Linked DNA regions of Homo sapiens: regions 2 and 3 are each linked to region 1. Evidence: fine-mapped expression QTL. A gene starts in region 1. Each other region holds a variant in brackets. All regions are shown on one strand. Distances are from middle to middle.

The links. PIP is the estimated chance that this variant, and not a neighbour inherited with it, causes the effect.
Region 2: its variant is fine-mapped to the expression of SLC39A14 in whole blood (TOPMed, PIP above 0.99).
Region 3: its variant is fine-mapped to the expression of SLC39A14 in T cells (TOPMed, PIP 0.97).

The regions. Positions count from the first base shown.
Region 1 is chr8:22,361,325-22,371,095 of GRCh38, forward strand. SLC39A14 (solute carrier family 39 member 14) reads left to right here and starts at 5,954. Exons shown (of 9, transcript NM_001128431.4): 1 at 5,954-6,084. RefSeq lists enhancers at 4,553-5,053, 6,589-6,838 and silencers at 5,599-6,268, 7,194-7,372.
Region 2 is chr8:22,451,068-22,462,631 of GRCh38, forward strand. The region is part of intron 1 of PPP3CC (protein phosphatase 3 catalytic subunit gamma); the gene reads left to right. Among named protein-coding and RNA genes, the nearest start is that of PPP3CC, 16 kb to the left of the region's middle. The variant C/A (reference allele first, on the strand shown) is at 5,662.
Region 3 is chr8:22,513,769-22,525,332 of GRCh38, forward strand. PPP3CC (protein phosphatase 3 catalytic subunit gamma) reads left to right here. Exons shown (of 14, transcript NM_005605.5): 7 at 8,723-8,800; 8 at 8,887-8,981. All of the region lies in intron 1 of LOC124901905 (a long non-coding RNA gene), which reads right to left. Among named protein-coding and RNA genes, the nearest start is that of SORBS3, 32 kb to the right of the region's middle. The variant G/A (reference allele first, on the strand shown) is at 6,170.

The sequences.
Region 1 (9,771 bases):
GTATTCAGGAGGCTGAGGTGGGACGATCACTTGAGGCCAGGAGGTTGGGGATGCAGTGAGCTGTGATCGCACCACCGCACTCCAGCCTGGGTGACAGAATGAGACCTTATCTCAAAAAAAAAAAAGAAAGAAAAAGAATCGTCTAACTGAAGAAACGTACTGGGGATAAAGAAAATATATCTGGCCGGGCGCAGTGGCTCACGCCTGTAATTCCAGCACTTTGGGAGGCCGTGGTGGGCAGATCACCTGAGGTCAGGAGTTCGAGACCAGCCTGACCAACATGGAGAAACCCCGTCTCTACTAAAAATACAAAATTAGCCAGGCGTGGTGGCGCATGCCTGTAATCCCAGCTACTCGGGAGGCTGAGGCAGGAGAATTGCTTGTACCCGGGAGGCGGAGGTTATGGTGAGCCAAGATTGCACCATTGCACTCCAGCCCAGGCAACAAGAGCAAAACTCCATCTCAAAAAAATAAAAGAAAAGCATATCCATTGCTAGATAAACTATAGTGAAACTATAGAACATGAAAGACAGAATCGTGAAAACAAAACAGCCAGATATGATCCAGCAATTCCACTACTGGGTATATACCCAAAGGAATTGAAATCAGTATGCTGGGCGGGGCATGGTGGTTCACACCTGCAATCCCAGCACTTTGGGAGGCCAAGAAGGGTGGATCACTGGAGGCCAGGAGTTCCAAACCAGCTTGGCCAACCTGGTGAAAACCTGTCTCTACTAAAAATACAAAAATTAGCTGGGCGCGGTGTTGCACGCCTGTAATCCCAGCTATTCGGGTGGCTGAGGCATGAGAATCGCTTGAACCCTGGAGGCAGAGGTTGCAATGAGCCGAGATGGTGTCACTGCACTTCAGCCTGGGTGACAGAGCGAGTCTCTGTCTCCAAAAAGAAAGAAATCAGTATGCCAAAGAGATATGTGCACTCACATGTTCATTGCAGCACTGTTCACAATAGCCAAGATATGGAAACAACCTGAGTGCCCATCAACGGATGAATGGATTTTTAAAATGTGGTACATTTACACAATGGATACTATTCAGCTTTAAATCAAAAACAGGACATTCTGTCACTCATGACAACCTGAATGAACTTAGAGAACATTATGTTAAGTGAAATAAGCCAGGCATAGAGAGACAAATACCATATGATCTCACTTGTATGTAGAATCTAAGAAAGTCAAACATAGAAGTAGAGAATAGAAAGGGAGTTGCCAGATACACGGTGGGGGTAGAGGGAGGTTGACAGGGAAAAGGGGAGACATTGGTCAATGGGTATAAAGTTACAGTTAGGAAGAATAAGTTCTAGTGTTCCGTTGCACAGTATGGTGACTATAGTTAATACTGTATATTTTAAAATAGTGAAAAGAATTTTAAATGTTCCCACTACAAAGGAATGATTTTTTTAAAAAAAGGAATAGCCTGACAAAGACAAGGCAAAAAAGAATATGTATATATTATATACATATATATATATTTGAGATGATAGATATGCTAATTACCCAGATCTGATCATTTCACAATGTGTACAGGTATCCAGACATCACATTGTACCCCATAAATATGTACAATTACTATTTGTCAATTAAACAAAACCAACCAGAAGTTGAAGAGATTGCTTACAAAGAAAGTTAGTCAAACCACCAGCACACACTTCCTGAACCACAATAGATGCCTTAAGACAAGAGGAATAGAAATTTTAAAACGCAATCGTAGGCCAGGCGCAGTGGCACATGCCTGTAATCCCAGCACTTTGGGAGGCCAAGGTGGGCAGATCACCTGAGGTCAGGAGTTTGAGACCAGCCTGGCCAACATGGTGAAACCCCGTCTCTACTAAAAATACAAAAATTAGCCAGGCGTGGTGGCGTGCACCTGTAATCCCAGCTATTCAGGAGGCTGAGGCAGAAGAATCACTTGAACCCAGGAGGCAGAGGTCGCAGTGAGCCGAGATTGCACCACTGCACTCCAGCCTGGGTAACACAGCGAGACTCCGTCTCAAGAAAAAAAAAAAGATGCAACTGTAAAGTTAGAATTGTATTCCCAACTAAACACTCATTCACAGGTGAGGGCAAAAATAATATTTTAAAAATAAAGATCAGGACAGAAATTAATGAAGAACAGAAAACCAATAGAGAAAATCAACAAAACAAGTTGGTTCTTTGAAAATATTAGCAAAATGGGCAAACCTTTAACTAGAATGACAGAGAAAAAAGACACAAATTACTAAAATCAGGAATGAAAGAGGGCACATTACTACCAAACTTACAGGGAATAAAGAAAAGATACTGTAAGGGAATACTATGAACAGTTGTTTGCCAAAAAATTAGACAACTTAGCTAAAATGCACAGATTTCTATAGCTTACTAAACAAAGTATTTTTCCCAGTTGTCTTTTTTTGTGTGTCAAAACCATCAGATGACAACAGAAATGAACAATTGAGGCCTCTAAAGCTCTTCTCTTTCAGCTGACAATGTAGGGAGCTAGTACTTGAGCCCTCTGACATGATTTCGGGTTGAATAGAACCTTCACATTCCTTCCAATCCTCTTAAATTTGTTAAGCCATCCCAAAACAGAAAATTCATTTTTTCCCAATAAAGCACCAGAGAAATCTGGTCACTGACCTCCAGACAGACTGTAAGAAAAGTGCGCCTAAGGCCAGCATGGTGGCTCACGCCTATAATCCCAGCCCTTTGGGAGGCCGAGGTGGGTGGATTGCCTGAGGTCAGGAGTTTGAGACCAGCCTGGTCAACATGGCGAAACCCCCTCTCTACTAAAAATACAAAAATTAGCCAGGCGTGGTGGCGTGCCCCTGTATTCACAGCTACTCGGGAGGTTGAAGCAGGAGAATCATTTGAACCCAGGAGGTGGAGGTTGCAGTGAGCCAAGATCATGCCATTGCACTCCAGCCTGGGCAACAAGAGTGAAACTCCATCTCAAAAAAAAGAAAAATGAAAAGCTGGCCTTAAGACCTGGGGTGCAGAGGGATTTTACCTCATCTACGTGGTCAAGTTGCTTACCTTGTCACCACAAACCGCACAGAGGGCTTTCATCTGGAGTCCCCAGCCCACTGTCTGCACAATCAGGGCTAGAATCTCATTTCTCTGGCTTATTTCCCAAGGCTGTTCTAGTCACCTCAGCTACGGGAGATCTGGCTATGTATCTTTTGGCAGGTAGCTATGGTGTCTTGTCAGAAGGAAAACAGTAGCAATGAAAATGTCAGATTTTTGTGCTAAGTTCCCTTAAATATTGCCCAACACCAAACTTTTAGTGAGCCAGCCCGTTCATTCATCCAGCAAATATTTATTGAGACTCTGTTATATGCAAGATGTTACTTTAGGAGATACAGGTATATAGGGAAATCTCGTGTAATCAAGGCAGATTAAGGTCTAATAAGGTTGGAGATTAAAGTGAAATAATTTTAAGGGAAAAAATATAAGTACCATAAACCATATAAAGTTTTAATTCTGTGGATCACAACCTAATAATGGTCATGAAGTCAACTTAGTGGGTTTGTTATCACTTTTTTTTTTTTAAATTGAACTATAACAAAATATCATTGCAATGCATATCTTTATGGATATTTTGTGAAATTTTTGTTTGCCGTATTGTTACTTATATTGGAGTTGCAGTGTTAAATGTTTTTAATGTGGGTTACAGTCAAAAATAGGAAAGGGTAGTTCAAACATGCTTCAGAAAAATCCACAAGCTTGCAGGCGAGAGGTGACTTTGGAGAGTTAGAATTTTGACAAGTGAAAATGGGTAATGAGAGGAAAAAGTGGAGAGCAGAGGCCGGTCGCAGTGGCTCACGCCTGTAATCTCAGCACTTTGGGAGGCCGAGGTGGGCAGATCATTTGAGCTTGGAGTTGGAGATCAGCCTGGCCTACATGGTGAAACCTTGTCTCTAATAAAAATACAAATACTAGCCAGGCAGGGTGGCGGGCTCCTGTAATCCCAGCTACTCAGGAGGCTGTGGCAGGAGAACCACTTGAACCTGGGAGGGGGAGGTTACAGTGAACCGAGATTGCACCACTGCACTCCAGCCTGGGCTACAGAGACTCTGTCTCAAAAAAAAAAAAAAAAAAAAAAGTGGAGAGCAGAGAGAAGTGGGCCTCCAAGCCTGGCACCAGGAATGAGAAACTGAGAACTACCCAGCAACAAGGAAGGATTTAAGAGATGCCTAAAGAATTTTGTGTGTGGGTAGATATGGAGAGTTAAGACCTTTTGTTAATAATTAATTGTATTCCCTAATGGATTACTGATAGCTTATCAGCTCTGCTTGCCTATGTGGACTTTGACAGCTCCACCTTTAGTGTGGTTGAAAACAAGTGAGAACGCCATGATAGGCCCGGTGGTGGGGTGTCTGGTCCTGCCCCCTCTCTGCCGAGCAATCTCCTTGAAGGGTGCCTAGTTCTCCTGTGGACAGTATTGACAACTTGCCTGGAAAAGCCATGGGATTGCTCTCCAGCTTTGGTTTTAAGAGATTTAACACTCCATTAGGATATGTGTTTACGGGCTTCATACCCTTCAGAGCTCTGTGTGTTGGAAGCATACTTATTTCACTTTATCTCTGGGTGGGCTTCTCACTCCTTTTCCAGTGCTTCAACAAAAGGTGTGGCGGGGACTGGCCCCTTTCTCACAGCCCACTGCAGTGGGATGAGAGTCCCAAACGGATGACATAATGTCTGGAAAGCACCGAGTTTAACCAAGAGAGAAATAGGGTTATTACAAAGATGAAGGGGCTCTGAGGGAAATTCTGCAAGAGATATCATTACTTTGAAATCACTTGGAAAATAAATGAGAGGAATATCACCCTGCCCCCATACCCACTGCAGCACTGTAATTACGGGGTGAGGATAATTGAATTTTAGAAACGCCCGGGGCCCAGCTACACTCTTCAAAAGTAATATGAAGAATCTGACCCCCTCTGGCCTGGCGAAGAGCAAGCTCCTGAGTTCTTGCTACCGGCTCCAGCGACTGTCTGCTTTCCTTTTCTCCTTAGCGCCGCCATCACGGGGGTCCTCCCCGCAAGACCTGCAGAGAGTGGGATGTTGCCCCCTTCCCTGCGCAAATTTAGAGACAGCTAGTGCCGTCTGGGGACCAGTCACTGTGCTAGGATCAGCTCGAGTACTAAGCCGCGACAGTTGGGCTAGAAAGCCCTTCCTCCGAGCCCCCCAAGGCCCAGGTGGCAGCGGGTTCAGCTCATAGAGGAAATTGTCCTGATGTCCTGCAGAACAGAACAATGGGAGTGGAAAGGGTGGTTTATTTTCTCAAGAAATCGACTACATTTCCCAGGCCTGATATACATCTCAATGGGACTGTCCCACAGAGGAAGAGTCTCCTCGGAACTTCTTCACCCCCAAATTAACATTTCTCCCAACTTTGGGTTAGTAGGGTTCTTTAGGCGTCTGATCATTGTGGGAAGCGGTGCGGCATCAAGTCTGAAAAGTGAATATAATATGGTTTATTTGGAACTCGACCAGGAAATTTTGGTTCTTTTGGCTGGTGGAAATATGCAGAAGAAACACCATCTAAGGGCGCGTCCCCTTCTGAAGTACCTTTCCGAACTGGGGAGGGAAGAGAAAAGCTTTTTGGGTGAACCAGAAGTGGTAAAATCACATTCAAATAGAGTGGGTAGGACTCTCCTCCAGGGGGTGTGGGGTGGAGGCTAGGCGGTGAGAGCTTCCCGCGCCCAGGGAGCAGGTCTTCACGGGAGGTTTCCGGAGGCAGGAGGAGCCTGCGGGTCCTCGGGAGTCACGGCCGGATGAAGGATGGGAGCGGGCGCCGACCACAGCCAGGGCCGCGAGGCGCAGGAGGGCGCAGGCTGGCCAGGTCCCCAGCCTGCCGGCCCCACGTGGCAGCCCCGGGGCGAGCGGGGCGGGCCGGGGGCGGGTCCGGCCGCTGACGCGCCGGGTATATAGCCGGGCATGCGCGCGGTGCCGGGGCCCGGACGCAGTGAGGGGGGTCGGCGCGCGTGTCTACGCGGACGCACCGGCTAAGCTGCTTCTGCCGCCGCCGGCCGCCTGGGACCTTGCGGTGAGGCTGCGCGGGGCCGAGGCCGCCTCCGAGCGCCAGGTGAGGGCGGGGACGCCAAGGGCCGCGGGATGGGCAGCGGCGGAGGAGCCCCGCACCCCAGGCTGGGGCAGTGGGTGGGGGCGGGGACAGCCCTGCGCCGAGGACCGGGCGCCGCTCCCGGGCACCGGCACACGCCCGGACGGCTGGGTGGAGGCTGCACCTGGCCGTGGTGCCGCGCTGGCGAGGGGAGAGGTCAAGGCGCGGCCTGTCCGCCTGGAGGGTGCGGGATGCTAGAGCCGCAGAAGGGTGCCCAGAGCGTGGGTCGCCGCGCCGAAGGCTGAGCCAGGCTCCCGGATTCCCCGCGCGGACACGGACGCAGAACGCAGACAGTAGGTGGCCAATCCGAGGGGCGGCTCTTGGGGCGGCTCTATGGGGCTCTGGGGTCTGGACTTTGCTTTTCAGGAGCTGCGTCCCCGGGCCCCCGCCGGTCCATCTCCCCTCTGAAGGTACATGTACCCAATCTTCCGGCTGAGCGAATCTCCAACCTGGCTTGCCCACGAGGATGGCTTTCTGGCTATTTTTGGTCCTTAATGACCAAGTTAGGTGGTCGGGTTCAGGCTGCCCCCTCTTGGTGGGTGAGGGCAGTGGGACAAAGTCGCCATCCGAGCAGTTTCATCATCTGATCCTGAGGTCCAGTTGAGCCGGGAAAATTTCGTCAGCTCTGGACTAGGGGTTCACTTTTGAGGATCTGGTGCTTGCCAGGGCCTGGGTTCCAGAGACAGGCTTCTCTAAACAGTTAAAGGGCTCGGCTGTACAGGAGGACTCCGGACACAATTGGGGAGTGGCTAAGTGCTCTCTTGTGGCCCGAATGGAAGCGTGGGGTTAGGAGCAGCTTTGACCTGACCCTTCTTCCTGGAGCAAGCCTGGTTTGGGTTTACGTCTTTAGTGGCTCTCCCCTAGGAGCCCCAGGCCATTGGGACGGCTGTGCTCCTGCTGAGGAGTGGCCTGGGAGTTAGCCCTGGCCTCTGTCCCTGCTCTGCTCTTAACTGGCCCTGTGACCTTGGGAGGGTCAGGTCAGTACCACGGTCAGACTAGATCTCCTTAACCACAGCATATACAATTCCGTAATCCTTCCCTCTTTTATTTTATTTTATTTTATTTTATTTTATTTTATTTTATTTTATTTTATTGTATTTTATTTTATTTGAGACGGAGTCTCACTCTGTTGCCCACGCAAGAGTGCAGTGGCGCGATCTCGGCTCACTGCAACCTCCGCCTCCCGGGTTCAAGCGACTCTCCTGCCTCAGCCTCCCGAGTAGCTGGGACTACAGGCGCGTGCCACCATGCCCGGCTAATTTTTTGTATTTTTAGTAGAGACGGGGTTTCACCGTGTTAGCCAGGATGGTCTCGATCTCCTGACCTCGTGATCCGCCCACCTCAGCCTTCCAGAGTGCTGGGATTACAGGCGTGAGCCACCCTGCCCGGCCTATCCTTACCTCTTAAAACCTAAGTCCTAAATATGGACAAGAACTTGTCCATATACATCCTTGGATGCATATCCCCCGGGACGCAGCTCCTGAAAAGCGAAGTCCAGACCCCAGAGCCCCATGGAGCCACCCCAAGGATATACATCCTTGGTAAAGCAAGAGAAGGGATGTCCAGAATCATAACTTAGCAGCTGGAATTAAAAGCCACATGTTCCTTTTCCTGGTGGAGGCTCAGAGAGGTGAGTTTTCCATTACCTGTGTGGTAGCCAGGAGATAGGCTAGTGGTCCTCTTGCTGGGGTTGGTTTGCAGGTAAGACTAGAGGGCACCAGACAGTGGAAGGGGGTCCTCTGGATACTGTCTCTTCCCAAAGGGCCAGGCCAAAAGCAGGTTCTTGCTTAATTTATCATATTTTACTCATCTGGCCTCTGGGGCCTTGAGGGAGGGCAGTGCTGAGCGGGAGATTCGATCCAGGTGTTGACTGACAGCTGGCCAGCCAGTGCAGAGGCTAGAGGAACTCACTGACCTGAGGACTTGGGGGCTGGAGCAGCTGCATCATTGGCCTTGTATTTTAGGCCAGAGTAAGAATTTTGGGCTCTGGGACTCTTAGCCTGTGGATGTACATTGCCTGGTCTGTGCTGGGCTCTGCAGTGGCCACCATGGCGGGTGCACGCAGAAGGCCTGGCCCCCACCCTTCCAGTGCAAACTCTTGGGGAGAAACAGCATCCACGGGTGAAGAACAAGATAGCAACACAAGAGAAGCCTCCATACTGTGCACAGTTCAGTTCAGAGAGCGGGCATCCTTGAAAGACGGGAATAATTCTGGCCTTTTGAGATAGGTGGGTCTCTGTTCAATTCCTGGCCCCGTCACTCTCCAGCAGTGAGAAATTTCTTAACTTCTGTTCTCACCAGCTTGCAGGATGTCGTGATTTTGCCTGGAACATAGTAGAGGGCTGCTTGTCATCATTCTCATCGTCATAATTTTTGTGGGGTGGAGTGGGTTATTTAGGGGTCCCAGAGGCTGATAGTTGGGTTGGGTTGTAGGAATGGTGTGAGCCCAGGCGTAGGGTTGATTCATCTCTTCCTTGGCAACATGGATGCAATTTCCCTGCCCTTCTGGGAAGGCCGCTTTTCTGTGGCCTGCCAGGGATTGTCCCACAGATCAATTGGGCAATTTTAGGGAAAACAAACTTTTTTCTACCTTTGGTTCTGGGAGCTGCTCTGATTTCTTCAGAGAAGAAATGCTCCTTCTCTGGGCTGATGGTAGCCAGGAAGGAGTAACAATGCCTGTGTGTGCCTGGGTGGTGGGTGTGTGCTTGTGTGTGTGTGTGCACATCTGTGCACATGTGCGTGTGCGTGTGTGTAGGGTATATATCACTCACAGGACTGGTTCTGTTTTTAAACCCTGCTTACCTTCTTCCTCCTTCCTTACCTGCTCACACCCTGCACTATTCCAAGAGGAAACTCAATCCCTGTCCAACATTTGCAGAATCATGGGGTTTACACAGTAGTGTTGTGAATAGATTGTGCGTGCCTGGGAACCAGGACCTCCCTCTCCCCACTATGTCAGGATAATAGCCTGCCTGCACCTGACCTGGCCAAGGTAATGCTGCACCATGTTGCTGAGCCCCACAACCATGGAATGTTGAGCAGGGGACTTTGGTGATCTTGGAGTCCAGCACCTTTATTTTACAGTGAAAGAAACTGGATCCAGGGAGGTGAATTGGTATTCCCGAGTCACATGGTTGCCAGTGGCCAAGAGACTTGATGGAGAAGACCAAAGAAGGGTTCTATTTTTGATCCTAAATGTGATTATGAAATTGCTGACACCTCCAGTCTTTGCTTGGAAACTAGAAGAGGAAGGGGCCATTTGTCCCTGTGCTTATTGAGGGAGGGGGTGTTAGTTTCTTCTGGAGGAGTCTCTTACTCTTTCCAGACTCCCTGGAGACATGGGAGGCTGGGGAGTGAGCAGGGAAGGGACCTGCTGCTCAGCCCAGCCGGGACTCACCGGGTGTCTGCAGTGGGGCTTCTCTGACCTCCAGGCTGGTGGGCTGGTGGAATGCCAGGAGATAAGGAGTCCAGAGTCCGCCCCATCGACTGTCGCCAGCCAGGGCTTCATGCCCACCTAGGGGACAGGAGGGCAGGCCCTAGAACACAGGGTCACGAAGCCCCACTATCTTGTTCCCCCCTCCCCCCACTACCGTGGGCATTAAACCTCTCAGGGGGCCCCTGGTTGGGCCTGGCAGAGGCAGAGACGCAGAG
Region 2 (11,564 bases), 91 kb after region 1:
TGAGCTCATGATCTGCCCACCACGGCCTCCCAAAGTGCTGGGATTACAGGCGTGAGCCACCGCACCCGGCCCATTTATTTATTTTTGAGACAGAGTCTCACTCTGTCTCCCAGGCTGGAGTGCAGTGGCGCCATCTTGGCTCACTGCAACCTCCGCCTCCCAGGTTCAAGTGATTCTCCTGCCCCAGCCTCCCGAGTAGCTGGGATTACAGGTGCATGCCACCACGCCCAGCTAGTTTTTGTATTTTTAGTAGTGATGGGGTTTCACCATGTTGGCCAGGCTGGTCTCAAACTTCTGACCTCAGGTGATCTGCCCTCCTCGGCCTCCCAAAGTGCTGGGATTACAGGCGTGAGCCACTGTGTCCGGCCCCCAGCCTCCTTTAATACTACAGGTTGAGTGTTCCTAATCCAAAATCTGACATTCTCCAAAATCTGAAGCTTTTTGAGTGCCAGATGACACCACAAGTGGACACTTTCTTTCCTGACCTCATGTGATGGGTTGTAATCAAAACCTGGGGACATAACCCAAAGTTTTTTCAGTGTCCCCAAGGGAAAAAGACCCTCCCAGCCCCCTTCGGTTGTGATATATCTTTTCCATGCACAGCATGATGGTGATGTCCAGGCAACCACAGATTGACCACGTAGGTGGCTAAGGGTAGTGACACATTTGCTTTCTAATTCAGTGTACGCAAATTTATTTTGTGCACAAAATTATTAAAAATATTTATAAAATTATCTTCACATTCTGTGTATATGAAACATAAATGAATTTTGTGTTTGGACTTGGGTTCCATTCCCAACACATCTCATTATGTATATGCAAATATTCCCAAATCTGAAACAATCTGAAATTGAAATGCTTCTGGTCCTAAGCACTTTGAATAAGAAGTCATACTTGTCGTCCTAGAATGTTTTATATCTGTGAATGGGCTCTTTGCTTCTGTGCATAATGGTTTTTTTTTTTTTTAACAGTTTTAGAGATAAGGCCTCACTCTGTTGTCTAGGCTGGAGTGCAGTAATGCGATCAATGCTCACTGTGGCCTCAAACAAACTCCTGGCCTCAATTGATCGTCCTGCCTCATCCCTCTGAGTAGCTGGGACTACAGGCGTGTGCTGCCATGTCTGGCTAAATGTTTTATTTTTATTACTTTTTTGTAGTGACAGGGTCTTGCTATGTTGCCCAGCCTGGTCTCAAACTCCTGGCCTCAAGTGTTCCTCCCACCTCCCAGAGAGCTGGGATTACAGGCATGAGCCACTGTGCCTGGCCCTGCGTAGAATCTTGTCCCTCAGCTTGACCAGCTCCTGTTTGTTTTTCAAGATTTAGCCAAGGGGACTTCTGAGAAGCTTTTTCTTCTCTGCTAAGAAGCTGTGGAGAGTAATGGTTTGAGAACATGGGCTTCAGTCAGACATACCTGGATTCAAATTTCTGTTTGTTTTTTTTTTCAAGGAGATGGAGTCTTGCTCTGTTAGCCGGCTGAAGAAGTGCAGTGGCACCATCATAGCTCACTGCAGCCTCAAACTCCTGGGCTCAAGTGATTCTCTTGCCTCATTCTCATGCCTGGCACTACAAGCATGTGCTACTATGCCCAGCTCAAATTCTTTTAGTGATGCATGACCTTAGATAAATCACTTACACTTGTTTTACCTGCATTTCTTTATGTGTAGAAGAGGGATAATGAAACTTGCAGTGGCAAGCACATAGTGAGTACTCCATATATGTTATGGTAGGTGCTGCTGCCGCCATCGCTATCATCATCATCATCATAAGAATTACTGTCTCCTATGAGCTCCCATAAACAATCTCATTGCTTTGCAAATCGCTTTAAATATTTTCTTGTCCTTTCTTCACAATAAACTCCTCTCTTTAAGGGCAACCACTGTATCCTTAATGCTGAATGCAGTGCTTAACACACGCTTAGGTGCTTAGTAAATATTTAAGTATGTGCAAGCATAAGAAGCTTATTTTATGGATGACAGTGTAAGAAAGAGTACAGACTCTGCTGATTACCAGCCGTGTGGCCTTTGAGCTTTGTTATTTATTTTCCTTGCCACAGGTGTAAAATGGGAGATAGTGCCTACCTCAGAATTTAAAGATTACATCTCATATTGTATGTAAAGTGCTTAGCATAATGCCCATAGTGGGTGGTTAATAAATGTTAGCTATTATTTAAAAAATAAATCAATCTTGGATCTTGGCGAGATTTGACAGTAGATCTATTTTACTTTAAGTGACATGTGAAATGAAGATTTAAGAGTACTGTATTTTATATAGTCACGCTTACATAGTTGCTTAATAATTCGGAGTTCTGACAAATGCATCCTTAGGCGATTTCATCATTATGCAAACATTGTATAGTGTACAGTTATCCCTTGGTATATGTGAGAGCTTAGTTCCAGGACCCCCACATATACCAAAATCCCTGAATATTCAAGTCCAGAAGTTGGCCCTGTGGAACCTGAGAATTCAAAAAGTTGGCCCTCTGTATTTGCAGGATGGGGTTTTGCAGCCTGTGTTTGGTTGAAAACATTTGCATATAAGTGAACCAGTGCAGTTCAAACCCATGTTGTTTGAGTTAACCATACTTATACAAACCTAGATGTTATATATATCTACAAACGTAGATGTTACACACCTAGGCTGTATGGTATATAGCCTATTGCTCCTAATCTACAAACCTGTGCAGCATGTTACTCTATTTAATACTGTAGGCAACTGTAACACAACAGTAAGTCTTTGGGTATCTAAACATATCTAAACCTAGAAAAGGTACAGTAAAAGTACAGTATTAAAGATAAAAAATGGTCCACCTGTGGAGGGCACTTAACATGAATAGGGCTTGCAGGACTGGAAATTGCTCTGGGTGAGTCAGGGAGTATGTGGTGAGTGAATGTGAAGGCCTAGGGCATTACTGTAGAACACCGCAGGCTTTACAAACACTGCACACTTAGGCTATGCTAAATTTATAAAATATTTTTCTTCAATAGTAAATTAGCCTTAGCTTACTGTAACTTTTACTTTATAAACTTAAAAATTTTTAAACTTTTTAACTCTTGTACTCATACTTAGCTTAAAACACAAACACATATAGCTGTACATATTTTCTTTCATATCCTTATTCTTATAAGCTTTTACGATTTCAAACATTTCTTATTTTTAAAACTTTTTTGTTAAAAATGAACACACACCACATACATTAGCTGAGGCCTCCAGAGAGTCAGGATGATCAATGTCACTGTCTTCTACCTCCACCTCCTGTCCCACTGGAAGGTCTTCAGGGGAATTAACAGGCATGGAGCAGTCACCTCCTATGACAACAATGCCTTCTCATGGAATACTTCCTGAAGGACCTGTCTGGGGCTGTTTTACAGTTACCTTTTTTTTGTTGTTTTTGTTTTTTGAATAAGTAGAAGGAGTATACTCTAAAGTAATGATTAAAAGGGTGGTATAGTGAATGTATAAGCCAGTAACATATTTGTTATCGTTATATGACTGGCAGTGCAGTAGGTTTGTTTACACCGGCAGTACCACAAATGTGAGTAGTAGTGCCTTATGCCGTGATGTTAAGACAGGTGAAAACATCACTAGGTGATAGAAACTTTTCAGCTCCATTATAATCTTACAGGATCTCTGTCATATATATATAGTCTTGTAGACTGAAATATTGCTATGTGGCACATGACTGTTTTCTAACTTTAGTCTTAGATATTGAAAGGATTTAAGGCTGGGCGCGGTGGCTCACGCCTGTAATCCCAGCACTTTGGGAGGCCGAGGCGGGTGGATCATGAGTTCAGGAGATCGAGACCACGGTGAAACCCCATCTCTACTAAAAATACAAAAAATTAGCCGGGCGCGGTGGTGGACACCTGTAGTCCCAGCTACTCGGGAGGCTAAGGCAGGAGAATGGCATGAACCCGGGAGGCAGAGCTTGCAGTGAGCCGAGATTGCGCCACTGCACTCCAGCCTGGGCGACAGAGTGAGACTCCATCTCAAAAAAAAAAAAAAAAAAAGAAAGAAAGGACTTAAACCTAAAATGCTTAAGAAGAAAAATGATGAAATTTTCCTTTTCTATAGTATAGATAGAATTTTGGAAGTGATGTATTCATAAATATTTGATGAGTTCCTATTACATGGAGCACATTTCTGGTTATGCTTAGAAGGGTTAAATACTACTTGAAAAGTACTCATGCGGTGTAGCATATAATAGCCTCTCAAAAATGTCACAGAAATTTAGAACTATATAGTGACCTATGACTAATCCCACTGCAAAAGGAGCAGGTGACTAAATTGTAGACAATACCTGGTGTGAAATGTTTGTTCCCTTGATCTATAAATTGATAATCCTTTAATGTTTAATCTGACTGTGACTAGTGGCCTGAAGAGGTAAGACTTTTGTGTTTTTTTATGTGTGTGCCTACGTATGTTTTTTTCTTGTGACCTAAGGCTTTGTGGAAGTTTAAAATAGAGTGATTTTAATGAATGGCTGGAGTAATAAAGATAGTTGGTGGGCTTCTCCATGGAAGCAAGTTGGTTATTTTTAACTACTTTGCACTGCTTTATGGAAAACATATGCCACTATAGAAGTTATTGTTTCTGTTGACTGTGACTGGTGGTGGTTATTACTTAGTTGGTTCTAGGAGGGCCAGTTTTTAGCTAATACTTTGAAAGTGAGTTCTGTGACTATTATTACTTAGTTGGTTCTAGGAGGGCCAGTTTTTAGCTAATACTTTGAAAGTGAGTTCTGTGACTATTATTACTTAGTTGGTTCTAGGAGGGCCAGTTTTTAGCTAATACTTTGAAAGTGAGTTCTGTGACTATCAAAGACCAGAGGAATAATCTCAAAGAAGCTGATCAGATCATGGAACTAAAGTCACTTGTTCTGGTGAGGAACAGTTGAAAGGGCACATAATACTTTTGGTAATAATATTTAATGTAACTTATTTAGCAGTGCGTGTTCATGATTGGCAAGGCAGGTGAGTAGATTAGGAAATGAGTCTGAAAAAGTAGGGCAGGACTGCTGGCTTAAAATAGGAGTGAAAGCAGTGAACAGACATAGCTATTTAGGCAAATCCTAGTGTCCCATGAGGATAAGACTACCACAATAATCTAAAAATAATAGCTTATAGGCCAATAACCTTTAAGGTTTATGTTTCATACTCACCGCAGGTCAACCCATGTGGCTGTTTCTCATTTATGCAGATCTACATCAGATTTTACTTGTGTTTACCTGAAAATACATATTGTTTATGTAGTCAATGTATATTGTAGTAGCATACAGAATCTGATCTTGAAAAGGTTGCAGAATTTCTTGAGTGTACTTTAGGAACTTAGTTTTTCAAAATTTATTTAATTTTTATTTTGATAATTATAGATTCACAGGAGGTTGTAAATAAAGAAATGTAAAGGGAGGTCCCAAACACCTCTCCCCTAACTCCCTTCCCTCTCTTTGCCCGTGTCAGTATCCCACACCACCACACACAGTAGTATACCAAAACCAGGAAATTGACATTGGTACAGTCCATAGAGCTTGTTCAGATTTCACCAGTTATACATGCATTCCTGTCTGTGTATGTGTGTTTAGCTTTACACAATTTCACATATAGGTAGCATAACTACCAGCACAATAAGGGTACTCAACAGTACCGTAACCACAAGATTTAGTTA[C/A]TTCCCCTGTATAGCTACACCAGTCCCCCTTCTCCACGGGAAACTCAGTTTTATAGTTTGGCTATTGTTTTTAATCATGTGCAAACCTGGTTTGATTAAGGTTTTTGCTTCTGATTTGGAAGCATTGTTAAATAATTTTTAATGAAATACAGGTAATCTGAAAGCAGCTGACACATGGTAAAAAGCTAGATTTGGGAACACTGAAAGACTTCTTGGATGCATAGGCTTAGAATGATTCTCAGCTGTGATTTATTTCCTCCCTCCCTCCCTCCCTCCCTCCCTCCCTCCCTTCCTCCCTTCCTCCCTTCCTCCCTCCCTTCCTTCCCCTCCCTCCCTCCCTCCCTCCTTCCCTCCCTCCTTCCTTCCCTCCTTCCCCCTCCATCCCTTCCCCTCTCTCAATATTCTGTAATATTGAAATATTTCGTTAAAAATATACAGCATATTACATATATATCTGAAATTTTCTCCTTTCTTCCTTTTAGTATACCTTCTATTTATTTTGGTACCAAGAATAGAGTGCTGCTGTAACAAACACCTAAAAGTGTGGAAGTGGCTTTGGAACTTCTGAAAGACCCAGCCCAAGTCCCATCTTCATTTATTTATTTATTTATTTTTAAGAATTTTTTTTCCAAGGCTGGATCTCGGCTCACTGCAACCTCCGCCTCCTAGGTTCAAGTGATTCTCCTGCCTCAGCCTCTGGAGTAGCTGGGACTACAGGTGCACACCACCATGCCCGACTAATTTTTGTGGTTTTTAGTAGAGATAGGGAGGGTTTCACGATGTTGGCCAGGCTGCTCTTGAACTCCAGGCCTCAAGCGATCCATCTGCTTCATCCTCCCAAAGTTCTGGAATTACAGGCATGAGCCACTGCACCCAGCCCAAGTCTCAACTTTCTCATACACTTAATTGATTTCTGTAGCTATCGTTGATTTCCCCCTTTATAATCTTCCGTACTTACAGTCTGAACCATACAATGTACTGCTTAACTATTCTGTGTTTATATCTTGTTTTATGCGAATTCTACTCAACTAGAGCATATGATTCTTCAAGGTAGAATAAATGTGTTAAACTTGTATATTTCGGCCGGGCGCAGTGGCTTACGCCTGTAATCCCAGCACTTTGGGAGGCCAAGGCGGGCGGATCACCTGAGGTCAGGAGTTCGAGATCAGCCTGGGCAACACGGTGAAACCCCGTCTCTACTAAAAATACAAAATTAGCCAGGCGTGGTGGCACATGCCTGTAATCCCAGCTACTCAGGAGGCTGAGGCAGGAGAACCGCTTGAACCTGGGAGGCAGAGGATGCAGTGAGCCGAGATCGTGCCATTGCACTCCAGCCTGGGCAACAAGAGTAAATCTCCGTCGCACCAAAAAACAAAAAAAACAAAAAAAACACACAAAAACAACTTGTATATTTCACACATTACCCATACAATGTGAGCATGTAGTAGGTACCAGATAAACATTTAGTTATTTAACTAGAATATAATTACTGCTCTAGTATTTTTTCCCTAGCACTTTCAAACGTTACTCAAAGAATCCTTCTAGCTCTTTGATACAAATTTTAGAACTTCACTATTAACAAATATCAGCTGGGCTCGGTGGCTCACGCCTGTAATCCTAGCACTTTGGGAGGCCGAGGCAGGCGGATTGCTTGAGGTCAGGAATTTGAGATCAGCCTGACCAACATGGTGAAACCTTGTCTCTACTAAGAATACAAAAATTAGCTGGCCGTGGTGGTTCTCAACTGTAATCCTAGCTACTTGGGAGGCTGAGACAGGAGAATTGCTTGAACCTGAGAGGCAGAGGTTGCAGTGAGCTGAGATCATGCCACTGCATTCCAGCCTGGGCAACAGAGCGAGACACCGTCTCAAAAAAAATAAAAATAAAAATAAAAATAAATAAATAAAATAAAGTAAAATAAAAATATATATATATCACTACTAGCTAGGATTTTAGGAAGGCTACCTATAGAAACTTAGATATATTTAGTTATGGAATGTTTTGTTTTTCAGTTGGTAATGTACACTCTTTCAGTGTTTCAAAGGAGGATACTGGATAATTCGATTTGAATTGTAAATCTCCCCAACTGGTGTTGGAGAAACCAGAGGAGTTGATGATTTTATACACAGTCTTTCCTACCTCTTATTATTGAGAAAAGAGTGTTAATTGTGGTCAATGAATTTCTTCAAAGTTTGCTGCTTTTAAATCAAATTAAGGAAGTCAGCAACTATAAGTAGAATGATATGAATAAAATGTTTCATTGTTATGAAGAAGTGTTAGTAGCACGTGGCATTATGTGTTTCACATATTGAAGTTGACACCAGAAATATACATTTGTAATTTTTTTTTTTTTTCTGAGACAGAGTCTAGCACTGCTGCCCAGGCTGGAGTATAGTGGTGCAGTCATAGCTCACTGCAGCCTGGAACTCCTGGGCCCAAGTGATCGTTCCGCCTCCACCTACACCTCCCAAGTAGCTGGAATTACAGGCACATGCCACTGTGCCCAGACCATTTTAGTGATTTGTTATTTTTTAAATCTCTATTCTCTTTTTAATACAGAGCTGCAAATTTCTTACTTTTCTTTAGTGCAATCCATGTGTGAAATATGTGTTATAATTTGTAACTAACAATATTTGAAGTCCTGAAGTTTTTGAATGATCTTGTATGTAAGATTAGAGTAGATTCATGGTTCCCACTAATAACCACTTCATTATTATCACTTTGTTATGTGTGTGTGTGTGTGTGTGTTTAAAGAGATAAACTTATAGGTGGTTTATCTAGAATTGTGTAAAATACTTTCATTTTCATGAGAGAGTATCTTGCATGTGAGTATTATTTGTCACATGTTATGCCTACATTGTTGGTTGGACTTAAACTTTAGTGACCTCTCAGAGATTATTTTCATTCTAGTTCATGTCATATTACTTTGATATATGTATTAAGAAGAAGTACAAGAGATTATTTAATGCTATTGTCTGAATGTTTGTGACCCCCCAGAATTTGTATGTTGAAATCCTAATCCCCAATGTAATGGTATTAGGAGGTATGGTCTTGGGGAGGTGAAGTTTTTATAAATTTCTAAAAGAAAGTATAGGAAAAATCTTTGTGACTTTGGGGTAGACTATTTTCTTAGATAGGTCATAGAAGGCATGAACCATAAACGCTGACAATTGGACTTTTGAAAAATTGTTCTTCTAAAGATGTTTAAGAAAATGAAGAGGCAAGCCACAGAATGGGAGAAAATATCTATACTGCATTAGTGGAGTTTACTACTAAATTAAGAAAACATTAGAAGATTGTCTATATAGTATAACTGATTATAAAATAATGTATTTACATATTTAAAATATTAAGATATATACTGACATCTTAACAGTAGTTGTCTTTGGCTGGTGAGATTCTAAGAGTTTTGTTTTTGTGGTGGTTATTGTTTTTTGTTTTGTGCTCTTTTAAAAAATTGTTTTGCCTCAAGTGTATAGTATCTTTGATTTATAAAAATCTTTAAATAAAGATAGGATAGTTTGAAAGATTAGCAGAATGTTTACAATCAATACTTGATACTACATGGATAATACTTTCCTATTCTATTTTTGTAAATTCTGTGCTTGAAAATTTCAAAGAATTTTTTGTGTGTGAGTGTGTGTTTTGAGGTGGAGTCTCGCTATGTTGCCCAGGCTGGTCTCAAACTCCTGTCCTCAAGTGATTTTCCCATCTTGGCCCCCTGTAGCATTGAGATTACAAGCATGAGCCACCATTCCCAGGCCAAAACTTTCGAAACTTTAAAAAATAGCATGAAAACCTTTATTTTAGTCCAGGTGCAATGGCTCACATCTGTAAACCTGGCACTTTGGGAGGCTGAGGTGGGAGAACTGCTTGAAGCCAGGAGTTTGAGACCAGCCTGGGCAACATGATGACACCTGTCTCTACAGAAAATTTAAAAATTAGTCAGGTGTCATGGTGCATATCTGAAGTCCCAGCTACTCTGGAAGCTGAGGTGAGAGGATTGCTTGAGGAGTTCGAGGCTACCGTGAGGCATGATCAAGCAGCTGCACACCATCCAGCCTGAGTGACAGAGTGAGAGACCCTGTGTCTAAAAATGAAAAAAGAAAATCTTTACTTTATTTATTTATTTTTTGAGATAGAGTCTTGCTCAGTTGCCCAGGCTGGAGTGCAGTGGTGTGATCTCGGCTCACTGCAACCTCCACCTCCCAGGTTCAAGTGATTCTCCTGCCTTAGCCTCCCGAGTAGCTGGAACTACAGGTGTCTACCACCATGCCCGGCTAATTTTTGTGTTTTTAATAGAAACAGGATTTCACCATATTGGCCAGGCTGGTCACGAACTCCTGACCTTGTTATCCGCCCACCTTGGCCTCCCAAAGTGCTAGGATTACAGGCGTGAGCCACCGCACCCAGCTGAAAATCTTTACTTTATTTACAGCACTTTGTGAGCCATATTTAGCAAACATAGTTCCACATATGAAGTTTGTTTTTAATGATAAGGGGTTTTTAAACTTGATTTTTAGTATAAATACACAGTATAATAAAAGTTTGTTTACATTAGATATGAAGCTAATTACCACCCCTAACTGCTGGCTGGTTTTCTAGAATTGTAGAAGCAGGTGGTGAATTTTCCTGTCTGCTGATATCCAAAACACTCTGATTCCTGGGTAAGTTCCAGCAGTATTGGATGTTGGTAATATTACTGTTGGTCGATTAATTTATGATAGTATTATATACATCTCTAAAGTCTAATTCTATGTATTTTTTAAGTAAATAGTAGAATAACATGGCATAACATTTTAAAAGGTATGTGGTAAAAAGTCTTCCTATTCCTAACTGTCAGCCACCAGTTTCCTGCCATGGGACTGTTAAATCTCACCACCAAAGACCACCAAGAAAACATCTGTAGTCAAAAATAAGTTACACTGATTTAGCTTGCTGCAGGAAGGAATAACATACATCAGAAGAGCTGTGGGACCTCTCAAAAGGATAGAGTTAGGAAAGAGGACATACAGGATTTTAGGAGCTGTTAGTCACAGAGTAATGTTAGGATAAAGGTAGTAGTCTGGGCAGGGATTGGCTAGAATATGTAATTTGAGTGAGTTGCTGGAACAGCCAGTAGTTTTGCCTCTAGGACACATAAGTCCCTGAGGATTTACTGTTAGATCAGTTTGTGGTACTAGAACATACGGGTATGAGTGAGCTGATATTAATAAAGGTTTGAGGCTGGGCACAGTGGCTCACACCTTTAATCCCAGTGCATTGGGAGTCTAGGATGGGAGGATCGCATGAGGCCAGGAGTTTGAGACTAGCCTGTTTAACTTAGTGAGACCTCAGTCTTTAAAAAAATTTTTTTAAAATTAAAATTAACTGAGTGTGGTGGCACACACCTGTAGTCTTAGGTACTTGGGAGGCTGAGGGGGAGGATCACTTGAACTCAAGAGTTGGAGACTGCAGTGAGCTATGATCATGCCACTGCACCCCAGCCTGGGTGACAGAGGGAGACCCTCTCTCTTAAAAAGAAAAAAAATAAGGTTTGAGCTTAGATGGCCTGTGATGCACAGTACATTGCGGTTTGGTTTGGTTCAGTTTATCTGTTTTGCAAGTACTAAGTGCTTTTCTGTGCATCTGCAAGCAATTTGTAGTGTAATTTCAGTTTTGTTTCACTTTTTAATCTCTGTTTCTGATCATTCGTCCGCTAAACTGGAACATTTACCATTTAGGGGAGGTGATCAATCAAGATTTCAAACTGTCGTTTGATGGGTTGTGAATGTTTATAAAGCTTTGATGGTAGACATTTTGGCCTCTACAGGCACCAGGCCATTTTGTTCTTTTTTTTCTTTTTTCTTTTTTTTTTTTTGAGACGGAGTCTTGCTCTGTTGCCCAGGCTGGAGTGCGGTGGC
Region 3 (11,564 bases), 150 kb after region 1:
CTAATACACTAGGTCTGAGAGGAATCCTATTGTATTTTCAAAAGCTCTCCAAATTTTGTAACCACTAGTATAGACTAAGATATAAAAAGAACAGGACATTGTGAACTAAGCCCAGTACATTTCCTGGAAGTTGGCTGTTGTTTTAAATTTCACAGGAGCTTTCATTATGATTAGACACTCAAAAATAGGAAGACAGGCAGGGCGTGGTGGCTCACGCCTATAATCCCAGCTCTTTGGGGTGCCTAGGCGGGCGGATCACTTAAGGCCAGGAGTTCGAGACCAGCCTGGCCAACATGGCAAAACCCCATCTCTGCTAAAAATAAAAAAATTAGCCAGATGTGGTGGCAACACGCCTGTAATCCCAGCTAATTGGGAGACTTCAGGCAAGAGAATCACTTGAACCTGGGAGGTGTAGGTTGCAGTGAGCCAAGATTGTGCCACTACACACCAACCTGTGCAACAGAGCAAGACTCTGTCTCCAAAAAAAAAAAAAAAAAAAAAAAGGAAGACATAAGAGAAGTTGGAAATCTAAATTATTTTTAATCCCAGTATTTTATTGTGGCAAATAATACATATGTTTATTTCCCTAAAAATCTCTGTTAATTGGCTAAGATAATGTGTTCATTAGAATACACACATGCACACACACATGAAACTTTGATTTCGCCATTACTTTTAGCATTCTTCTAAACAACCTTTTTTTCTTTAAAAAAATATTTTTTAAAATTTTTGTGGGTACATAGTAGGTATATATATTTATGGGTTATATGAGATATTTTGATATAGTCATACAATGTATAATAATCACATCAAGGTAAATGAGTTATCCATCACCTCAAGCATTTATCCTTTGTGTTACAAACAATCCAATTATTACTCTTTTATTTATTTTATTTTTTGTTGTTTTTTTTTTCACCTTTTTTTTTTTTTTTCCTTTTTTGAGACGGAGTCTTGCTCGGTCACCCAGGCTGGTGTGATCTCAGCTCACCGCATCCTCCACTTCCCAGGTTCAAGCAATTCTCCTGCCTCAGCCTCCTGAGTACTGGGATTACAGGCACCTACCACCATGCCTGGCTAATTTTTGTGTTTTTTAGAGATGGGGTTTCACCATGTTGGCCAGGCTAGTTTGGAACTCCTAACCTCAAGTGATCCACCCACCTCAGCCTCCCAAAGTGCTGGGATTACAGGCATGAGCCACTGTGGCCGGCCTCTTCTAGTTATTTTAAAATTTACAATTAAATTATTATTCACTATAGTCACCCTGTTGTTTAAATCTCACAGTATCAAATACTAGGTCTTATTCATTCTTTCTGACTGTTTTTTTCGACCCATTAACTATCCCATTTCCCCTCTTACTACCCTTCCCAGCCTCTGGTAACCATCATTCTACTCTCATCTCCATGAGTTCAGTTGTTTTAATTTTTAGCTCCTACAAATAAGTGAGAACGTGTGAAGTTTGTCTTCCTGTGCCTGGCTTATTTCAGTTAACATAATGACCTCCAGTTCCATTCATGTTGTTGCAAATGACAGGATCTCATTCTTTTCAATGGCTGAATAATATTCCACTGTGTATATGTACCACATTTTCTTTGTCCTTTCATCTGTTAATAGACACTTAGGTTGCTTCCAAATCTTGGCTATTGTGAACAGTGCTGCAATAAACATGAAAGTGCAGATGTCTCTTCAATATACTGATTTCCTTTCTTTTATATACATACATAGTAGTGAGATTGCTGAATTACATGGTAGTTCTGTTTTTAGTTTTTTTGAGGAACTCCAAACTGTTCTCCATAGTAGTGTACTAAACATTCCCACCAATAGGATATGAGGGTTCCCTTTTCTCGACATCCTCACCAGCATTTGTCATTGCCTGTCTTTTGGATAAAAGTCATTTTAACTGGGTGAGATGATATCTCATTGAAGTTTTGATTTGCATTTCTCTGATGATCGGTGATATTGAATACCTTTTCATATACCTGTTTGCCATTTTATGTCTCCTTTTAAGAAATGTCTATTCAGATATTTTGCTCATTTTTAAATTGGATTATTGGATTTTTCCTATTGAATTGTTTGAGCTCCTTACATATTCTGGTTATTAATCTCTTGTCAGATGGATAGTAAAAAGTCTTTTTTTCTTTCTTCTTCTTTATTTTATTTTATTTTATTTTATTTTATTTTATTTTATTTTGAGACAAGGTCTCTCTTTGTTACCCGGGCTGGAGTGCAGTGGCACCATAACAGCTCACTACAGCCTCAACCTTCTGGACTCAAGCAGTCCTCTTGCCTCAGCCTCCTGAGTAGCTGGAACTATGGGCATGTGCCACCATGCCCAGCTGCTTTTTTTATTTTCTGTAGAAACAAGGTCTTGGCTGTTTTGCCCAGGCTGGTCTTGAAGTCCTAGACTCAAGTGACCCTCCCTACTTGGCCTCCCAAAGTGCTGGGATTACAGGGATGAGCCCCACCCAGCCAACAACCATTTTTCATTCCTCCATGCCAACTTTTCCAGTGACTAATGTGATGAAATCATTTAACTTTTATTTCTTTTTACATTGCTTAAAATAAAGAGCATAATACATATTCATTGTTGTCAGAATAGAAATTGGTACAATTTCTGTGGACATCAACTTGGCAATATCTTTCAAAGGTATTTGTACATGGCCTTTGATCCAGAAATTCTACTTCTAAAACTTAATCCTGTAGATATATAATTGATTCTCATTACTTGTGGATTTCATATTTGTGAATTCCCCCACTTACTAAGATGTATTTGTAACACCCAAATCAGTACTTACAGAGGTTTCATAATCATTCATGGGAATGTAGTGTGCAATGCAACAAAAAATTTGAGTCACCTCACTCACATGTTCCTAGCTGAGGTTGAACAAAATGATGCCCTACCTTCTTTTTGCAGCCCTCATGTTGTAAACAGGCATTCTTTTGAGTTTTATTTAGTGAAAGATGTTTTATGTTTTTGTGCTTTTCATGAGTGATTTCACTGTTTAGAATGGCCACCAAGTGTAGTGCTGAAGTGCTGCTGTCTAGGGTCCCTAAGCACAAAAAGGCTGTGGTATGTCTTACAGAGAAAATATGCGAGTGTTAGATATAAGCTTTGTTTAGGCATGAGTTATGGTGGTTTTGGCCATGAGTTCAATGTTAATGAATCAACAGTGTAAATGACCTAAAGTATTATTACACAGAAACACATCTGAAACAAGGTTATATATTAATTGGTGGGTGAAAATGTTATGACCGGAGCCTCACAGGAACTTCACCCTGTATTTCCCTTAGCAGTAGTGTTTCATTATTTGCTAATTCTGTTTTTGCAGCAACATTATAGAATGTAGCTACTGGGAATAATGAGATAAAAAATTTGACTCACCCAGCACACATGTTCCCAGCTGAGGCTGAACAAAGTGATACTCTGCCTTCTTTTATCCCAGGGATAAATCCCATTTAGCCACAGTATATAATACTTTTAGTATGTTGTTGAGTTTGGCTTTCTAGTGTTTTATGGAGGATTTAAAAATCTATGTTCATCAGAGATACTCACCTGTACTTTTCTTTCTTCTGGTGTCTTTGGCTTTGGTATCAGAGTGATGCTGGCCTCATAATGTGAGTTTGGAAGAATTCTCTCTTCTATTTTTTGGAAGGTTTAAGAAAGATTGGTATTAATTCTTTTTTTTAATGATTAATAGAATTCACCCATGAAACCATCTGGTCCTGTGCTTTTCTTTGTTGAGAGCTGTTTGATTACTGATTCCATCTCCATATTTGCTATTGGTCTGTTTGGGCTTTCTATTTCTTCATGATTCAGTTTTGGCAGGTTGTATATTTCCAGACTCTATCCATTTCTTCTGGGTTTTCCAGTGTTTTGGTGTGTGATTATTCGTAATAGTCCGTTATGATCCCTTTTATTTCTGAGGCATCTATTGTAATGTCTCCTCTTTCATTTTTTGTTTTATTTATTTGAGTATCTCTTTTTTTCTTAGTCTTGCTAAGGGTTTGTCAATTTTGTTTAGTTTTTCAAAAACCAACTCTTAGTTTTGTTGACTTTTTTCTGTTGTTTTTCTATTCTCTATTTGATTCATTTCTGCCCTAAACTTTCCTTTCTTCTGCTTACTTTGGGCTTATTTGATTCTCCTTTTTCTAGTTTCTTGAAGTGTAAAATAAGGTTGTTTAATTCAGATCTTTTTTGTTTTTTAAATCGGCATTTATTACTATAAACTTTCCTGTAGGTACTGCTTTTGCTGCATCCCATACATTTTGATATGTATATTTTTGTTTTCATTTATCTTGAGGTTTTTTTTTTTTTAGATAGGATGTTTTGCTCTGTCACCCAGGCTCAATGCAGTGGCACAATGATACCTCACTGCAACCTTGAACTCCTGGGCTCAAGCAGTCCTCCTGCCTCAGCCTCCTGAGTAGCTGGGACTACAGGATGTACCGCCATGCCCAGCTAATTGTTTTTAAAATTTTTAGAGGAGATGAGGTCTTGCTGTGTTGCTTAGGCTGGTCTCGAACTCCTGACCTATCTAGAGATAATTTTAAAATTCCTTTTTGATTTCCTCTTTGACACAATAGTTGTTCAAAAGTGTGGTGTGTAGTTTCTATGTATTTGTGAATTTTCCTGTTTTCTTAAGTTATTGATTTCTAGTTTCATTCCATTATGGTGGGAAAAGATACTTAGGACGATTTACATCTTCTTAAGTTTGTTGATACTTCTTTGTGATTATATAGCCTAAAGAATATTCTGTGTACACTTGGGAAGAATTCTATTCTTCTGTTATTTGGCAAAAAGTTTTGTATATGCGTATTAGGTCCATTGGGTTCATAGTGTTGTTCAGTTCTGTTGTTTGCTTATTGATTTCTGACTGGATGATTTATCCATTACAGAGAATGATGTATTGAAGTTACTTGCTATTATTATTATTATTTTGAGATGGAGTCTCGCTCTGTCGCCCAGGCTGGAGTATAGTGGCGCGACCTCGGCTCACTGCAACCTCCGCTTCCTGGGTTCAAGCAATTCTCCTGCCTCAGCCTCCCAAGTAGCTGGGATTACAGGCATGCACCATCACGCCCAGCTAATTTTTGTATTTTTAGTAGAGACGGAGTTTCACCATGTTGGCCAGGCTGGTTTCGAACTCCTGACCTCAGGTGATCCACCCACCTCAGCCTCCCAAAGTGCTGGGATTACAGGTGTGAGCCACTGTGCCCGTCCTACTTGCTATTATTTTATTACTGTCAATGTTTGCCTTCAGATCTGTTGTTGCTTTATATATTTAGGTGCTTTGATGTTGGGCACATATATATTTATAATTGTTACATCTTTCTGTTGTATTGACCCTTTTATCATTATATAATGACTTTTGTTCCCTCTTGTGATGATTTCTGACTTAAAGTTTATTTTGTCTGATAAAAGTTTAGCCACTCATGTTCTCTTCCGGTTACTTACTTGCATGGAATACCTTTCTCTACCCTTTTACTTTCAGCTTATGTGTGTCTTTAAATCTAAAGTGAGTCTTTTGTAGACAGCATGTAGTTGGGTCTTGTTTTCATCCATTCACTCATACTATATCTTTTGATTTGAGAGTTAAAGTAATGATTGATAGGTAAGGACTTACTATTACCATTTTGTTGGTTGCTTTCTGTTTTGTGGTTCTACTATTCCTCTCTTTTTCTCTTTGTGATTTGATTTTTATTTTTGTAGTGGGGTATTTTGGTTCTTTTTATCTTTTGTGTATCTACTGTGCTTTTTTGTTCATCGGGTTTGCATCAAACATTTTATAGTTATAGCACTCTGTCTTACGCTGAGAAGAAATTACTTTCAATGACGTATAGAAACTCTACACTTTAGTCCCCATTCACACACCTAATGTAATTAATTTCAGGTTTTACTTTATTTTTGAGACAGGGTCTTGCTCTGTCACCTAGGCTGGAGTGCAGTGGTGCGATCTTGGCTCACTGCAGCCTCTGCCTCCCGGGTTCAAGTGATTCTCCTACCTCAGCCTCCTGAGTAGCTGGGACTACAGGCACACACCACCACACCTGGCTAATTTTTTATATTTTTAGTAGAGATGGGGTTTCACCATGTTGGCCAGGCTGGTCTCTAACTCCTGGCCTCAAGTGATCTGCCTTCCTCAGCTTCCCAGAGTGCTGGGATTACAGGCAC[G/A]AGCCACTGTGGCCAGCTGCATCTTTTAGTTTCTACTTGAACTTCCTTTAGTTGCTCTCATAAGGCTGGTGTAGTCATGACAAACTCCAGTTTTTGTTTGTCTGGAAAAGTCTTTATCTCTCCTTCATTCTTAAAGGGCAATTTTGATGAGTAAAGTATTCCTGGTTGGCAGGTTTTTTTTTCTTTCTTTTAGTACTTTGAATATATTATCTCCCGCTTTCCTGGCCTGCAAGGTTTCAGCTGAGAAATTCACTGATAGTCTTATAGAAGCTTCCTTGTATATTATATGACAAGTAGGTTTTCTCTTGCTGCTTTCAGATTTTTTCTTTTTGAGTTTTAACAACTTAATTATAATGAGTCTTGGTGTTTAACTTATTTGGAGACCTTTGGGCTTCATGAATTGAAATGTCCCTTTTCCTCCCTAGATTTGTTAAACTGTTAGCCTTTAGTTTTTAAAAATAAGAAGCTTTCTGCCCCTTTTTCTTCTCCTTAACTCCCATATGCCTGTATTATTTTCACTTGATGTTGTCCCATAAGTCCTGTATACTTTCCACATTCTTTTTTATTCTTTTTTCTTTTTGTCCCTCTAATGCTATCATTTCAAATGACCTGTCTTTTAAGTTTCCCAGTTCTTTTCTTCTGCCTGAGTCTGCTGTTGAAGCTGTCTCTTGAGCTTTTCAGTTGAGTCATTGTATTCTTCAGCTCCAGGATTTCTATTTGCTTCTTTTTTATGGTTTCTGTTTCTTTATTAAACATCTCTCTTTATTCATTTATTTGCTTTCCTGATTTTGTTTAGTTGTAGTTCATTGAGCTTCTTTAAGATGATTATTTTGGATTCTTTGTCATGCAATTCATACATCTCTATTTATTTAGGGCCAGTTACTAGAGGTTTATTAGTTTCCTTTGGTGGTGTCATTTTTGCCTGGTTCTTTATAATTCATATAGCCTTGCAATGGAGTCTATGCATTTGAAGGAGCAGGGGCCTTCCAGTTTTTATGGACTCGTTCGCCAAGTAAATACCTTCTCCTATTGAGTCCCTGGGTTGATGGGATTGCCTGTGGTATTGTGATTAAGCAGGGCTGAAGCTAGATTATGGGGCTACATTAGGGTTCACAGTCAGTGGGCGTACCACTAGGGGCATGGACAAGTATGTCCCATGGATGGGGAGAGCTGTCTCTGGAACTCAATAGGGTGGGACCCAAGCTGGGTCCCAGGCTGGTTTGGGTTTATGTTTGGGTCCAATCAGCAGCCCTTTTACCAGAGGAATGGACAGGCATGATTTCCACAAGGCCCCTGTTAAGGCAGGACTTCCTCTTGGCCACAGTAGAGCAGGGCTGGAGCCAGGTCAGAGTGCTGCTTTGAGTCTGCAGTTGGGTCTGGTTGGTGGATCTGTTACTAGGGGCATCAACAGACATGGTTCCTTCCCAGGATGGATGAGGCTGGTGGTAGGACTGCAGACAAGTGGGACTGGAGCCGGGTTTACAAGGGACAGGCTGATTCTGGGTCTGTAGCTGAAAGGTCAGTGGGCCTGCCTTCTCCAAGCAGCCCTTCCTAGTCTTGGGCTCCACCAAGGTTTCATAACCACCTACCTCAATCCTAAGGTTCTTACAATGGCACTTATGGCCATGGATGGCTTCCAAACTATTGTTTCTGTAGGAGGACCAGGGCTGGGGACATTCTCTTTTGCTATCTTGCTTACGTCACCTACAACCTACTTTAAAAGTAAATTTGTTCTAATGAGCATAATGAGAAACAAAGATTTTAAAAATAAACTAAATAATTAATGCCTAAGTAATTCCAGGTTAATTTTGTATACTCCAGTTCTTCCTATCAGGTATTTGTCATTCAGAGAGGTAATAGTATGAAAAGAATATTTTAGGAGTATATGAGAATATTGTATCTTTTTTTAGAATATGGTTGGCTAAAATATTTACATCTGCTCCTAAAATATTCCTGCATAAGCTTGCAGTGAGCCGAGATTGCACCACTGCACTCCAGCCTGGGCGACAGAGCAAGACTCCGTCTCAAAAAAAAAAACAAACCTATATATATACATATATATGTATATATGTATTCCTGCATAATATTATCTTGGTGTTTATATTACCTGTGAAGCTGTAAGTATATTCTTTTATTTCTGTAACAATTTGACAATTGAAGAAAAGTATGTGTTGAATTTTTAGCATCTACTACACACACACGCACACACACACACACACACACACTACTGTTGTACTTTGTAATATCAAGACACTGATAAAAGTTTTGGTGTTGTATTGTTATGGATTAAGACAAAAAAATTAAAAGATGAGATGGAGGAGCTCTTTCTATTGTAGGATTATCTATTGTTTTCATGTTTGATCTGTAGTGAAGTATATTAGTGAAATAGAGAAACAGAATGATGAGTACTAAGCTATTCATAAAATTTCAGTAGTGTGTAATACTTGTAGTTTTGAAACAAAATCAGCTAATATCACCTTGACTTTTCCCCATCTTCCTATTAAAAAAAATTGTTTTAATTCTGGATTTATGTTTTCTAATTTTCTTTTCCAGTTACCCTGCAGTTTGTGAATTTTTGCAGAACAATAATTTACTATCAATTATCAGAGCCCATGAAGCCCAAGATGCTGGGTAAGTTACATTAAAATTGTACCAAATATCGCTGCAGAGTCTTTGCATTTAATATGCAGACAGATGGACTTTCATCTCTTTTTCAGGTATCGAATGTACAGGAAGAGCCAAGCCACAGGCTTTCCATCACTTATTACAATTTTCTCTGCCCCCAATTACCTAGATGTCTATAACAATAAAGGTAAAGGAATCCAGCAATATTTGAGTTTGAATTTATGAGTAAACGTGAGCTCTGGTTTAATTGTATGTACGTATGTGTGTTTGTGTCATTTTAAAACATAAATTTTAAATAAGAAAAAAAGGGGTCTTAGTTGAAACAAAGGCCAAGAAATTTAGAATTTATGCTGCTGCTTGGTCTTTATCTCCTAAGGATTACTGGCTTCTTTGTGAGTATAAATAATGATCATAATAGGTCAGATTGATACTACAGAATCAAAGTATAAGAAGAATAAATTGCTTCAGGCTCATGCCAGAATAGTTAGCATAAATTATTGGTTTTGGTGAATTTAATGTGTTTATAACAGTATCTCAAAGTCACCATTGGTATTTTAATCTTTGTGAATTATTAAACTATTTTTGTTTTTCTTGAGATATGGTCTAGGTAGAGTGACCTAGTGTACAAAGTCAAAAAAAAACCTTCATTTTTAGTTTAAACCCTGCCAGAAACGAATACTGTGACTTTGAGTGAGTCACATTATCTTTCTAATCTTCAGTTTCCCATATGAAAAAAGAAGAATGGATATATACATGCCTTTTGTTCCAGAAATTTTACTTCTAAGACTTTATCCTGTTAAAGTCTTTTTTTTAATTTAAAACTTTTATGATTAATAGTTTATAAGTTTTCTATCGAGGCAGTGGTCCTACTAAAAACTTCATATTTCTGTAACTATTTTGTTGTTTATAAAGTATGACTATAAATTAATAGGACTTTGAAAATAAACATGCCAGAACAAACATATCCAAATGAGTATTGTCCCTTCAAAGTAGTTACCTTGGGAGGCTACACACCTATTCCAACAATGCTGTCCTTGTTCAAAAACATTTTTGGAACTCCTCTTTTGGCATTGCCTTCAGAGTCTGCGACACATTCTTTTGATTATCCTCAATGATGGGAAATCTTCGTCCTTTGAGGGTGGATTTGATTTTTGGACAGCCAAAAGTCATTCGGAGTCAAGACTGATAAATAAGGTGAGTGATCAAGCTAGATGATACCATTTGGGGTCAGAAACAAGGTATGATTATAAGGTAATGAGACTGGTTTTTCTCGTGTTGCTGATACAGTGGCTCTGGAGGCACTTCCAAAAGAGGAGTTCCAAAAACGTTTTGAGTAATGGCAGCATCTCTGGATTAATTATATGGTAAGGCAACAAGTTGTGCTGAAAAGAACACAAAGCAAGGAGTCAGTCTAGTCCTGCTTCACTTTTAAGTGTGTCACATTTAACAAGATACTTCTCTGAGCCTCATCTTTAAAATATCTGTCATATGGGGTTGTTGAAGATAAGTTGGAATAAGGAAAATGGATATTAAAGTGTTGTTCAAAATATAAATTACTATAATAATACAGATTTTACTGTTATTGTACCTGATGTGATAATATCAAAGGACCACACTCATCTGATAAAAAGGTCTGGTGTGTTTGTAGCTGGTGGTTTCTTAAGTCTCATTACTTTATAGTTATACCTTGTATATGCAGTTGGGGAGATAAGTTTCAAAGATGGCCAAAATATAATTAATATTTACTCTATTTAAAAGTAAACCATGGAATGGCACATCTCATTTAAATCCGATTTGGGTCAGTCATTTTAGTGTGTCCTCCAGTGACTTGTCTATTTTAAAAAGCATGTCTTTAACTTAAGTTCTGTCCTAGTCTTATGTTTTCATTTAACTTAGCATTCTTCTCTGAGCCTTATCTGTCCTACAATGCTCTGCTTCTCCCTAAGTTCATTTGTTATTTCCTTTTTCCTGATATTTCCAGTATATTAGCAACTTAGGTTTTATTCTTATTTATTCTCTTATCAATGGTGTGGACTGTTTGTGTTGTTAAACGTCTTCAAGGACTCTTGTGGCCCTAGATCTCCTATTTGTAATGAAGGTGTTTCTTTCTCACTTTCTTTTTTAACTTCATCAAAAAGAGTATCTATTGATTGCTCAATGGATTTATCAGTGTGCCAAGCTGAAACACGCCACCTAAGTCAGCAGGCACTATACAGCTCACTCACTGCTAGCTTGTTTTTTGTCTCAATCTAACCTGGTTTTGTTCTTGATTATTTCTTTAGCAAACTTTTAACATCACAGTCCTGGCCAGGCACAGTGGCTCATGCCTGTAATCTCAGCACTTTGGGAGGCCAAGGGGAGGATCACTTGAGGCCTAGAATTCAAGACCAGCCTGGGCAGCAAAATGTGACCCCATCTTTACAAAGAAAAATTTAAAAGTTAGCCAGGCAAGGTGGAGCATGCCTATAGTCCTAGCTACTCAGGAGGCTGAGGCAGTAGGATCCTTTGAGTCCAGTAGTTCGAGGCTGCAGTGAGCTGTGATCACACCACTGCATTCCAGCCAGGCAATAGAGCAAGACCCTGTCTCTAAAAAATAAAAAAAAAAGTAAAAGCCACAGTTCATTCTACCTGAGTATTCTGTCGGCTTTGACATAATTAGTAACTTTTATCTCAAAACAGTCTTATTTTCATTGGTTGTTTCTTAGGCATTTTAGAAGGAAAAAGGCAGAAAATGTGGCATTTGAAACAGTCCCTGGGGGTACTCAGTTAC